2 linked regions of the Homo sapiens genome follow. The protein of the gene in region 1 purifies or fractionates together with the protein of each later gene. This does not show direct contact. Each region holds a gene or a part of one and is shown in the gene's direction. Other genes may lie near its edges.

Region 1 (5,664 bases):
TTAGAGACATAAAGATCAATACAATTTAGTTTCTTCTGTGTGAAAGCCCAAATAAAAGGATGCAGTGCAAAAAATAAAAAAAATACTAGAATAGAACGATGAATACAAGGACAGGAAGACAATAGCAGGAGTAACTCACCTTCCCAGGGGAGCCCATGAAGTCTTGAGTTGGGGCTTAAAGAGTGGGTAGGAATCAAACAGGCAAAAATGGGAGAAGCTCTTTCTTTACCTGGATTCTCATGTGCTAGAACATAAAGACACGTGTCATTTTTGGTGAATGATGACAAGTTCAGCTTGGATATCATCAGAGTGTCAGCAGGAAATAGTTGGTCTACTTAAAAAGGGTGATCGAAACCTTAAAAATAGTTAAAATGGTACATGTTATGTATATTTTACCTTAATTTTCTTAAAGAACATAGGCTCTATTCCACCTTTTAGGGAAGGAAGCATAGCTCTCTATTTCTTTTCTTCTTTTTTGAAAAAAATAGAGACAGGGTCTCACTATGTTGTCCAGGCTAGTCTCGAACTCCTGGGCTCAAGCGATCCTCCTGCCTTGGCCTCCCAAAGTGCTGGGATTGCAGGCATCAGCCACCACAGCCAGCCTCCCTATTTCTTAAACATGGGCTGCACATAGTGACTTCCTTCCAAAAAGTGCGATATAGAAAGAGAAGGGGGAAAAAAGTAATTTTACAGTGTAGAAACTTGACAGACACTCCCTTGGCCAGATGATCAAGGTCAACATCACCAGTGGTAAGTCATGTTGACATCATGTTCTCTTGATGCATATTAAAATTATGTATTCTTGTTACATGTTGAGGGTCATTCTGCAAAATATCTGACCAGTACTCTTCAAAACTGTCAAGGTCATCAGAAACAAGGAAATTCTGAGAAGCTGTCACAACTCAAGAGGAGTCTAAGGAGGCATGACTAAATGTTATGTAGTATCCTGGATGAGGTCATGGAACAGAAAAAAAAAATTAGGTAAAAAATAAGGAAGCCTGTGTAAAGTATGGACTTCAGTTAATAATAATGTATCAATATTGTAACAAATGTATCATACCAACATAAGATGTTAATCATAGGGGTACCTGCCTACAGAGTATAAGGAAGGCTGGGAGTATATGGGAATTGTGTATTATCTTTTCAATCTTTTTATAAATTTCAAACTTTTCTTAAAAAAAAAAAAAGTCTATTTAGGCCAGGCATGGTGGCTCTCTTGAGGTCAGGAGTTGTAATCGCAGCATTTCGGGAGGCCAAGGAAGTCGGATCACTTGAAGTCAGGCATTCAAGACCAGCCTAGCCAACATGGTGAAACCCTGTCTCTACCAAAAAATATGAAAATTAGCCAGGTGTGGTGGCACACGTCTGATGTACCAGCTACTTGGGAAGCTGAGGCATGAGAATTGCTTGAACCCGGGAGTTAGAGGTTGCAGTGAGCCAAGATCATGCCACTGCACTCCATTCTAGGTGACAGAGGAGACCTTGCCCCCCGCCCCCCGCTCGAAGTCTAAAAATTTTACAAGGTGGGGGTAATTGAAGGACTATTTACAAAGACGTGGGCAGGGTTGGAAGAAAACCAACATGGGAGGATGAAGCATCTTGGAGCAAGCAACTTCAGCCTAAAAAAGCAAGAACAGGGAATAGGGTTCGGGTAACCCCAGACCCACTGAGAGCTTAGATGGCAGAGGGAATCCCCTGACCAGAGCTGAGGCCCTTAGCAAAGAAAGGCAGCCACAGCCAGGCAGGAAGAGGTTGAGGGGTGGGGATCAGATCTCAAGCTCATTCTCCATATGCCTTCTTTCTCATATCCTACCAGTGCCCCCACTTTAACCAAATTTAGCCCATAGTCAGGGAGCTTGGGAGCTGGCTGAAGCAGTCCATCAAGGTCAGCCTCCCTGGAGAAAGGCAGAGAGTGGACTGGAGAGGAGAAATGGAACCCACCCAGCGCAGGTTGCATGAAGAAATTGGTGTGATAATACAGCTGCAGTTTTGGGCTGCAGCCAGAGTTTTAGGCTGAAGCCTTAATGTGGCTTACTGCAGAATTTGGACTTTATCCTATAGACAAGAAGATAGCAGTCAATTTCATCCCGTGTGCCAAATCGGAATTGGCAACTGAGAGCACTGTGTTAAGAAGGGATCTCAGGCTGTCTCTGTGCAGGATTGATGGAGGTGCTTGTGTGAGTATGGAGGGAGCCCAGTGGTGAAGCCTTTTAAGAAATAGTGATGTTAGATTCAAGCAGCAACAAATGTAGGACTCACATGAAATCAAACCTTAATGTCTGTTTTGGGTCCTTTGTGATACTTCTATTGTCACTCTCACCCACAGATGATTTACGAGGAAAAAGCACAAATGGTTTCTTAAGACAGAGGTTGCCATGTTTTGAATCATAGGATCCCATCATTATGACTACAAGCTGATTGAGCCAGGGCTCAGCCCTGGAGTGAAAGGCAGCCTTCTATAGGCTGGTCAGCATTTTATGACATGGCTTGGCATGGGGACGTCATCCAATTAAGATCATGCATATTGTGTAGTGACTAACAGACTCAATCGAATTGCTCCCTCAGCAAGTCTGAATGCAAGACCCAGACATAAATGTTAGAGTTCTGACAAACCTCAGAGAAAAGAGGGAGGTTGTAAAGAAACAGAAGCCTCAAGACACAGGAAACAATAGGAACTCAGAAGCCAGAGGTGGAGGGGGGAATGAAAAGTCTGTAGAAAAGATAGGCCAGATACGGTGGCTCACGCCTGTAATCCCAGCACTTTAGGAGGCAAAGGCGGGTGGATCACCTGAGGTCAGGAGTTCGAGGCCAGACTGACCAACATGGAGAAACCCTGTCTCTACTAAAAATACAAAATTAGCGGGGCATGGTGGCACATACCTGTAATCCCAGCTACTCGGGAGGCTGAGGCAGGAGAATCGCTTGAACCCAGGAAGCAGAGGTTGCGGTAAGCCAAAATCATGCCTTTGCACTCCAGCCTGGGCAATAAGAGCGAAACTCTGAAAAAGAAAGAAAGAGAGAAAGAAAGAAAGAAAGAGAGAGAAAGAGAGGAGAGAAGGAGGGGAGACGAGAGGAGGGAAGGGGAGGGGAGGGGAGGGGACAGGCAAAGCCAAACAAAGCAGAAAAAAAATTTCTGAATGGAAAAAGAAGCTAAGACTTGAGTATGGCAGATTCCACTGAGCATGAGAAGCTAGAGGAACTGTTATGTTTCAGGATAGAATGGCTCAGAGAGGACCTTAGGAAAGAAGCTGGCTGTGTGGCTGCTGCAGTTTTCTTAGTTCTTGAGGAATTATATTATAAACCCCTCTCAGTGGAGGGAGCCTGTGGGGATCTCGCAGTGCAACCAGAATGTGCTGATCCCTACTACTTTGAAGGATTTACACTTAATTGCAAGTAGGTCGTTATTTCTCTCACTGTAGTTGCGAATGGTGGCTGGTGAGGAAGAACAATGGGGAGAGGAAGTTAGATCCCTCTGCTCACCTGTGTACCCTCAGGGCCTGACATGCCTGGAGCAACCAGGTACTTAATCCTACCTGGTGAATGGAAGCTTGAAAGGTGCGCTAAACTCGCCTTTGTCTGACTTGGCAGAAATTTGATCACCTGCCCTTTCCTGTCACAACAGAGGTAACTTATCCCTGGACACTTGGCCTGGCTGTGTCTTCTTGTAGCTTGATGATTTTTTTCCCCCCATGTTGGCTCCTTCCTTTTTATCCAGGAAACTGATAGAGGGTTTTGATTAATGAATAACTTTTTAATTGCTTTGCTTTCTTCTGATGGATGCCATGAAGGGAGGTATTGCTAAAAAGTTAGTTGATGGTGAAACATCTGACAAGTTTAAAAATGTATTTCAATTACTATGTTTTAGGAAGGCTGTGGACAGCCGGCCTGGTGTGATTTTAACTTTTTTGACTTCTAATTAAGATGTCAAGACATTTGCATTTTTCAAAAAGCACTTTCACTTCCTCTTGTTACAGTTTTCGTTAATGATTAAGTCCTCTGTGGTCCCGATTAGAATTATATCCTGAACTAAGGCATTCTTGCATTTTATCCAGCAGGAGATTTTCTTGTGAGAAAACACTGTCACAGTTTCCAGGCAACGCATCAAGAGTGTTCCTGTCTATATTAGGAATCTATGAAAATACCAAAATTTGGGGCATCTGCAGGTCTTTATTATTCTTCTTGCCTGGTGAGATACATTCCATATACTGAGAAAGTGAAACATTGAAAAATCAAGGCGAGACTGTGACTTGTATTTTTTGATTAATTAATTTTTAATTTTATAATTGACACATAATAATTGTATATGTTTATGGGGCACAGCGCAATATCTCAGCACGTAGGTGTGTGACTCATGTTTTTTGTCCCCTCAATCTTGCTTCAAGCACAACAAAAAGTCCCTGAGGCTTGGGCCAGAGCGGATGAAAAGGGAAGGCACCAACTACCTAAGATCTTGAAGGCAAGGCTTGGGAGTCTTGGGAAAGGGGGCAGTGGTTTCCCTCAACCATTTTAAATACTATTCTCTCCTCCCCCAAATGCTCATTGGCAGTGCTATACCTCTATTGTTTAATGAGAAAACACCTGGTTCATTGTTACTTTGTTTATTTGGTAAATGCCTTCATAAGAAATGCCCTTTCTGTCATCTCAGGGTATGTTTTGATTTGTCCAAATGGCAAAAATTTTGTTTCCATAAAATTTTATGAAAAACTGCCCATCAAAGCAAAGATTCCTGTGGGTGTGGTGGTGAATGCACAGGCTGCTGGGGTAATGTGTCGGCAGCTAAAAAAGACCAGGCCTTAATTGGTAGAGAAAGGGCTTAGGTGAAAGATAATTAAAGGGTGGCTGTGAAATAGAACATCAAGTATTTTGTTTAAAGCTTGACAAATGGAAGGAGCCTCTGTTAGAAGTTGGTTTGTATATTAGGGTTCTCTAGAGGGACAGACCTAACAGAATGGAGATATATACACACACACACACACACACACACACACACACACACATATGTGTATATGTGTGTATATATATGTGTATATATATACACACATATACACATATACATATATATATACACATATATATATATGGAGTTTATTTAGTATTAACTCACACAATCACGAGGTCCCACAATAGGCCTTCTGCAGGCTGAGGAACAAGGAGAGCCAGTCTGAGTTCCAAAACTGAAGAACTTGGAGTCTAATGTTTGAGAGCAAGAAGCATCTGGCATGGGAGAAGATGTAGGCTGGGAAGTTAGGCCAGTCTCTCTTTTTACATTTTTCTGCCTGCTTATATTCTAGCTGAGGTGGCAGCTGATTAGATTGTGCCCACTCAGATTAAGAGTGAGTCTGCCTTTCCCAGCCCACTGACTCAAATGTTAATCTCCTTTGGCAACACCCTCACAGACACACCCAGGATCAATACTTTGTATCCTTCAATCCAATCAAGTTGACACTCAGTATTAACCATCACAAGTCCACCTTTTGTCAACTTGAACCCATGTACATCTCCTGAGATCATATGTAATCTTCATATACAGATAACAATAAGGTTATAATTATGTCTAACATAATACAACTATCCTTCATACAACAGGAAATTCACCACGCCCCAACGCAAGTACTATTACATAAAGTTAACAATACTTAAATGCTGATATGAAGTCAATAAATC
Region 2 (4,853 bases), on another chromosome or scaffold:
GGTTTGTGTAAGTACACTCTGTGATGCTCACAATGATGAAATTGCCTAATGACACATTTCTCAGAATTATCCCTGTCGTTCAGTGATACATGACTATCGTTGCTTAATAAATGGGAGGAATGGTCGTTGTTATAAAGCCTGACTTTCCCCTGAGGGTCATTCATTCACCTCCACTTCTCCCCTAGAGTCTTTAAGGGAACTTGCCAGTGGAGATCTGCCATGATTTGGGGTTATTCTCCACTCAGTTTAGAATGACATTGCAAGATTAATGTTGGAGTCAGATGTTATGGCCAGGAAGATTGTGTATTTGGTTTGTGAAGCTAAACTGTGGTTCAGGAATTGGAAAAGGAACTATCCTTTGAGTTCAAAGTGTACTCAGCTAAAGATACTTGGTATGTGAGGTACAGAAGCCATGCCTGCATTTTCCACTGTCCTGGCCTACATAGTAGGTACACAGTAGATATGTGTTAACTAAATAAACGAGAGAAAGAAATTAAAAATGTGGGCCAGACACGGTGGCTCACACCTTTAATCCCAGCACTTTGGGAGGCCAAGGTGGGCGGATCACCTGAGGTCAGGAGTTTGAGACCAGCCTGACTAACACGGTGAAACCCCGTTTCTGCTAAAAATACAAAAAATTAGCTGGGCGTGGTGGCACACACCTATAATCCCAGCTACTCAGGAGGCTGAGACAGGAGAATCGCTTGAACCTGGGAGGTGGAGGTTGCAGTGAGCTGAGTGAGCTGCACTCCAGCTTGGGCAACAAGAACAAAACTTCGTCTCAAAAAAAAAAAAAAAAAAAAGTGGAGTTGAATACTTTTCTTTCAATTCTGTAGATATCATTTTTTTTTTGTATGTGGTGTTAGATTATAGAAAGGGCAATGAACTAGAAGTCAGGAGACTTTTTTTTTTAATCCTGATGCAGTTCATTTTATGTTTCTGAGCTTTGGTTTCCTCATTTGAAAATGGAGAGAGATTGGACAGCAGCTCTCTAAGCTGAAGGTAACCCTTTCTGTCAAGTAGCATCCCCATCCTTTCTATTACTTAAAGATGCTTTTAGAGTAGACCTGAACTTTTAAGCTGCTTCCTGCTAGGAGAGTTCTCAAGGATGAGGACAGCCTGAAGATTTTGTTAAACTGGATCTGGACTACCTGAGAGTCCACACATCCCTTGTGAGCCCGAGGAGACTATGAACCCACTGAAATTGAGTGTAAAATAGTGTGTAGTACATGTGTATGTGAATGCCCCCATCAATTTTTTGCACAGGGTGTCCTTAGCTTTTATTGGATTCCTTCAGATGTTGTAACCTCTCACAGGGTGATTTGTAGAGAAGCTGGGTCTGTGTGGTCTGAGCCCTGGGGATTTCACATATACTGAGATCTCAGGGGCAGAGGCTGGGGTCTTATCTCCATTGCGTTATTTATTTTCTGTGATTTTTACCCCAGTTTTTTTTTAATTTCCGATACCAGTAATCCCTACAGAACCTCAATGGGCATGCAGTGCTCCATAGTTTACTCCTGTTTTCTCATTCTGCTACTACCACTCCACCCATCAAGTGTTTCTGCTAATGAAAACATTTTTCTTCCTTTCCCCTTTTCTCCTTCTCCTTGATGACTGGTTGCCCTGGGGACTCTGGCAGTTGGCCGTGTTTACATCAGGTAAGATGCATTTCATTTTACTTTGTCTTTCATCAGCTCTGGTTGCACAAGAGAGCCCTAGTCTCAGGAGACTGCTTTCAGAAGCTGCAATCTGCCCTGCTTGTGGGCTCATTTGCTTACTTACCCCCACAGCCTTCTTTACATACCTGTCCACTGACAGACACTTGATGAAATCGGGATGGTCCTAATTCTGCCACAGAGGGCCTTTTTGGATCTCAGTTACTCATTTATAAATTGGATTGGATTGATAGTATGTTAGTTAGGTCCTTTTTATTTTTGAGATTCTGCTTCTATTAAAACAGTGCCTCCTATCATATCAACAGTCCCCCAGCCCTTAAAGGTTATGAAAATATTAGGAAGGGGAAAATTTTTTTGGTGTCAACAAAGAGCTTTTGTGAGGAGAGAAAAGTCTATTTTCCTAGCTTTAGCACCTACTTGGTGAGACAGAGCTGGGCCTGGCATTCACAAGTGGCTGTGAATAATCACAGCCTGCTGAAAGTCTCCCTGGTCGTCAGCAGTAGAGTACCACACTCGTAGGTGGCCTGGGAATGTGGGGGAGGACAGAAGTTCCAGACTGCTAAAGCTTCAGAATCTGGATGGGAGAAAGAAGGTGGGAACAGGGCTGCACATTCTGTCCCCAGCGGGACCTGGTAGTACATATTGACTATGAGTTTATGAAGAACACATAACACATTAAGTTTTGGAGCTATGAACAGTAAGAGTAGTAAATAAAATCATTCAGTGCTGCCATCTCCTCAGCCCTGAAGTCCTAGATTCATGTTTATAGAATGTCTATAAAAACACATTTTGGCCGGGTGTGGTGGCTCACACCTATAATTCCAGCACGTAGGGAGGCCAAGGCAGGTGGATCACTTGAGGCAAGGAGTTTGAGAACAGCCTGGCCAATATGGCAAAACCCCGTCTCTACAAAAAATATAAAAATTAGCTGGGCGTGGTGGTGCACGCCTATAGTCCGAGCTACTAGGGAGGCTGAGGCACGAGAATCGCTTGAATCTGGGAGGCAGAGGTTGCAGTGAGCTGAGATTGCACCACTGCACTCCAGCCTGGGTGACATAGTGAGACTCTGTTTCGAGAAAAAAAACCAAAAAACCGAAAAAAAAATCAAAAACAAGCAAAAAACAAACAAAAACAAACCAAAAACATTTTTTATCACTTGTTTTTTTAAGAAAATTAATTTTTTTTTTTTTTTGAGACAGTCTCATTCTGTCGCCCAGGCTAGAGTGCAATGGTGAGATCTCGGCTCACTGGAACCTCCGCCTCCCGGGTTCAAGCGATTCTTGTGCCTCAGCCTCCTGGGTAGCTGGGATTACAGGTGCACACCACCACACCCGGCTAGTTTTTTTGTCTTTTTAGTAGAGACAACGGAGTTTCACCATGTTCCCCACGCTGGTCTTGAACTGCTGACCTCAGGTGATCCACCCGCCTCAGCTTCCCAAAGTGCTGGGATTACAAGCGTGAGCCACCGCGCCTGGCCTAAACAAAAAATTTTAATGTAACCAGTGAAAGGGCCTGAGAAACCCAAAACGGGATTTTTTTTATATTGAAAGAAATAGGTGAATGCAAAAAATCAATGAAAGTACACAAAAAGCATTAAGCAAATTTAGATAATGAGCAAAACCTATCCTTTAGCATGTGGTAAGTCACCAGAAAATGATCAGCTTATCTCCTGATTCTGATGCCTGGGATACACAGTTGTTGGGAAAATGCTATAAAAATGAGAAATTGGCCGGGCGCGGTGGCTCATGCCTGTGATCCCAGCACTTTGGCAGACCAAGGGAGGAAGATCACGAGGTCAGGAGTTTGAGACCAGCCTGGCCAACATGGTGAAACCCTGTCTCTACTAAAAATACAAAAATTAGCTGGGCGCAGTGGTGGGCGCCTGTAATCCCAGCTACTTGGAAGGCTGAGACAGGAGAATTGCTTGAACCCAGGAGGCAGGGGTTGCAGTGACCTGAGATCATGCCACTACACTCCAGCCTGGGTGACAGAGCAAGACTCTGTCTGGGGAAAAAAAAATGAGAAATCACAGAAAGAAGAATATGACTGACAGGAAAATACAGTTGCTCCTACTGGGAAGGTGGGGATTTAAAGTTTGCTGTACTTACACCAGCAGCCTAAATTGAGGCTGGGCATGTCAGACTTGACAGCCCCAGACTTGCAGTTTCCCTCCCCCTGTGTTGCTAGGAGGCCCTAGAGAGAAACAAAGCATGAAGAAGCCTAATTGTGATGATTTTTTTTCTTTTTTTTGAGACAGAGTCTTGCTCTGTTGCCCAGGCTGGAATGCAGTGGTGCAATCTCGGCTCACTGCAACCTCCGCCTCCCGGGTTCAAGCGATTCTCCTCCCTCAGCCTCCCGAGTAGCTGGAACTACAGGCATGCGCCACCATGTCTGGCTAATTTTTGTATTTTTAGTAGAGACGGGGTTTCACCTTGTTGGCCAGGCTTCTCTTGAACTCCTGACCTCAGGTGATCCACCCACCTCCGCCTCCCAAAGCGCTGGGATTACAGGCATGAGCACCGCACCCGGCCAATTATGATGATATTTAAAGGCAATTTTGATTTTACCACTGGTAGGTATTTGCTGAATGGTAGGAGAAGGAATGGGAGTCAGGTTCCTTGAGATGTTCCCTGCTCATGCTGGTGTTTCCCAGTTTGAGGCCTCTGGCCTGTGTTGTTCTGGTGGCTCTGGCTGATCACTCTGGTGGGTCTTGGGCCATCCACATGCATTTTTCTCTCCTGTTTGCAGTGGTTGGAGACCAGACCTAACAGACAGGTGTGTCCTGTTTGCAAAGCTGGCATCAGCCGAGACAAGGTCATCCCCCTCTATGGAAGGGGCAGCACTGGGCAACAGGACCCCAGGTGAGGACTCAGGATGCCTCTCCCAACCACTTCTCCCCTTGGATGTGAATTCACTCCCATTCAGCATCCCCTAACCCCACCCTTTACTTAGTACTAGATGATCTCTTGGTTTCGAAGCAGTCTCATCCAGATGAGAGTCAGCTAGGAGGGGAGGGAAGAGAGGGGATCCAAGTTGCCACTTGCTAGGACCCAGCAGTGAACAGACATCACAATCACAAGTGTGCAGAGCCCTGTGAAAGAGCATTTCTGCAACCTGGGAAGCAGGATATGTAGCAGGAGAGGCTCCAGGGAGCAGGGTTGCTGCATCAGTGATGTA

The links.
Region 2: the proteins of SGPP2 (region 1) and RNF185 purify together in Homo sapiens (affinity purification with mass spectrometry; one large-scale study listed by BioGRID and IntAct). This does not show direct contact.

What each region holds. Positions count from the first base shown.
Region 1 is NC_000002.12:222,430,016-222,435,679, forward strand, and holds part of SGPP2 (sphingosine-1-phosphate phosphatase 2), read left to right. Parts: intron 1-5,664. UniProt on the Homo sapiens protein: Has specific phosphohydrolase activity towards sphingoid base 1-phosphates. Has high phosphohydrolase activity against dihydrosphingosine-1-phosphate and sphingosine-1-phosphate (S1P) in vitro.
Region 2 is NC_000022.11:31,191,045-31,195,897, forward strand, and holds part of RNF185 (E3 ubiquitin-protein ligase RNF185), read left to right. Parts: intron 1-1,639; coding exon 1,640-1,658; intron 1,659-4,424; coding exon 4,425-4,537; intron 4,538-4,853. UniProt on the Homo sapiens protein: E3 ubiquitin-protein ligase that regulates selective mitochondrial autophagy by mediating 'Lys-63'-linked polyubiquitination of BNIP1.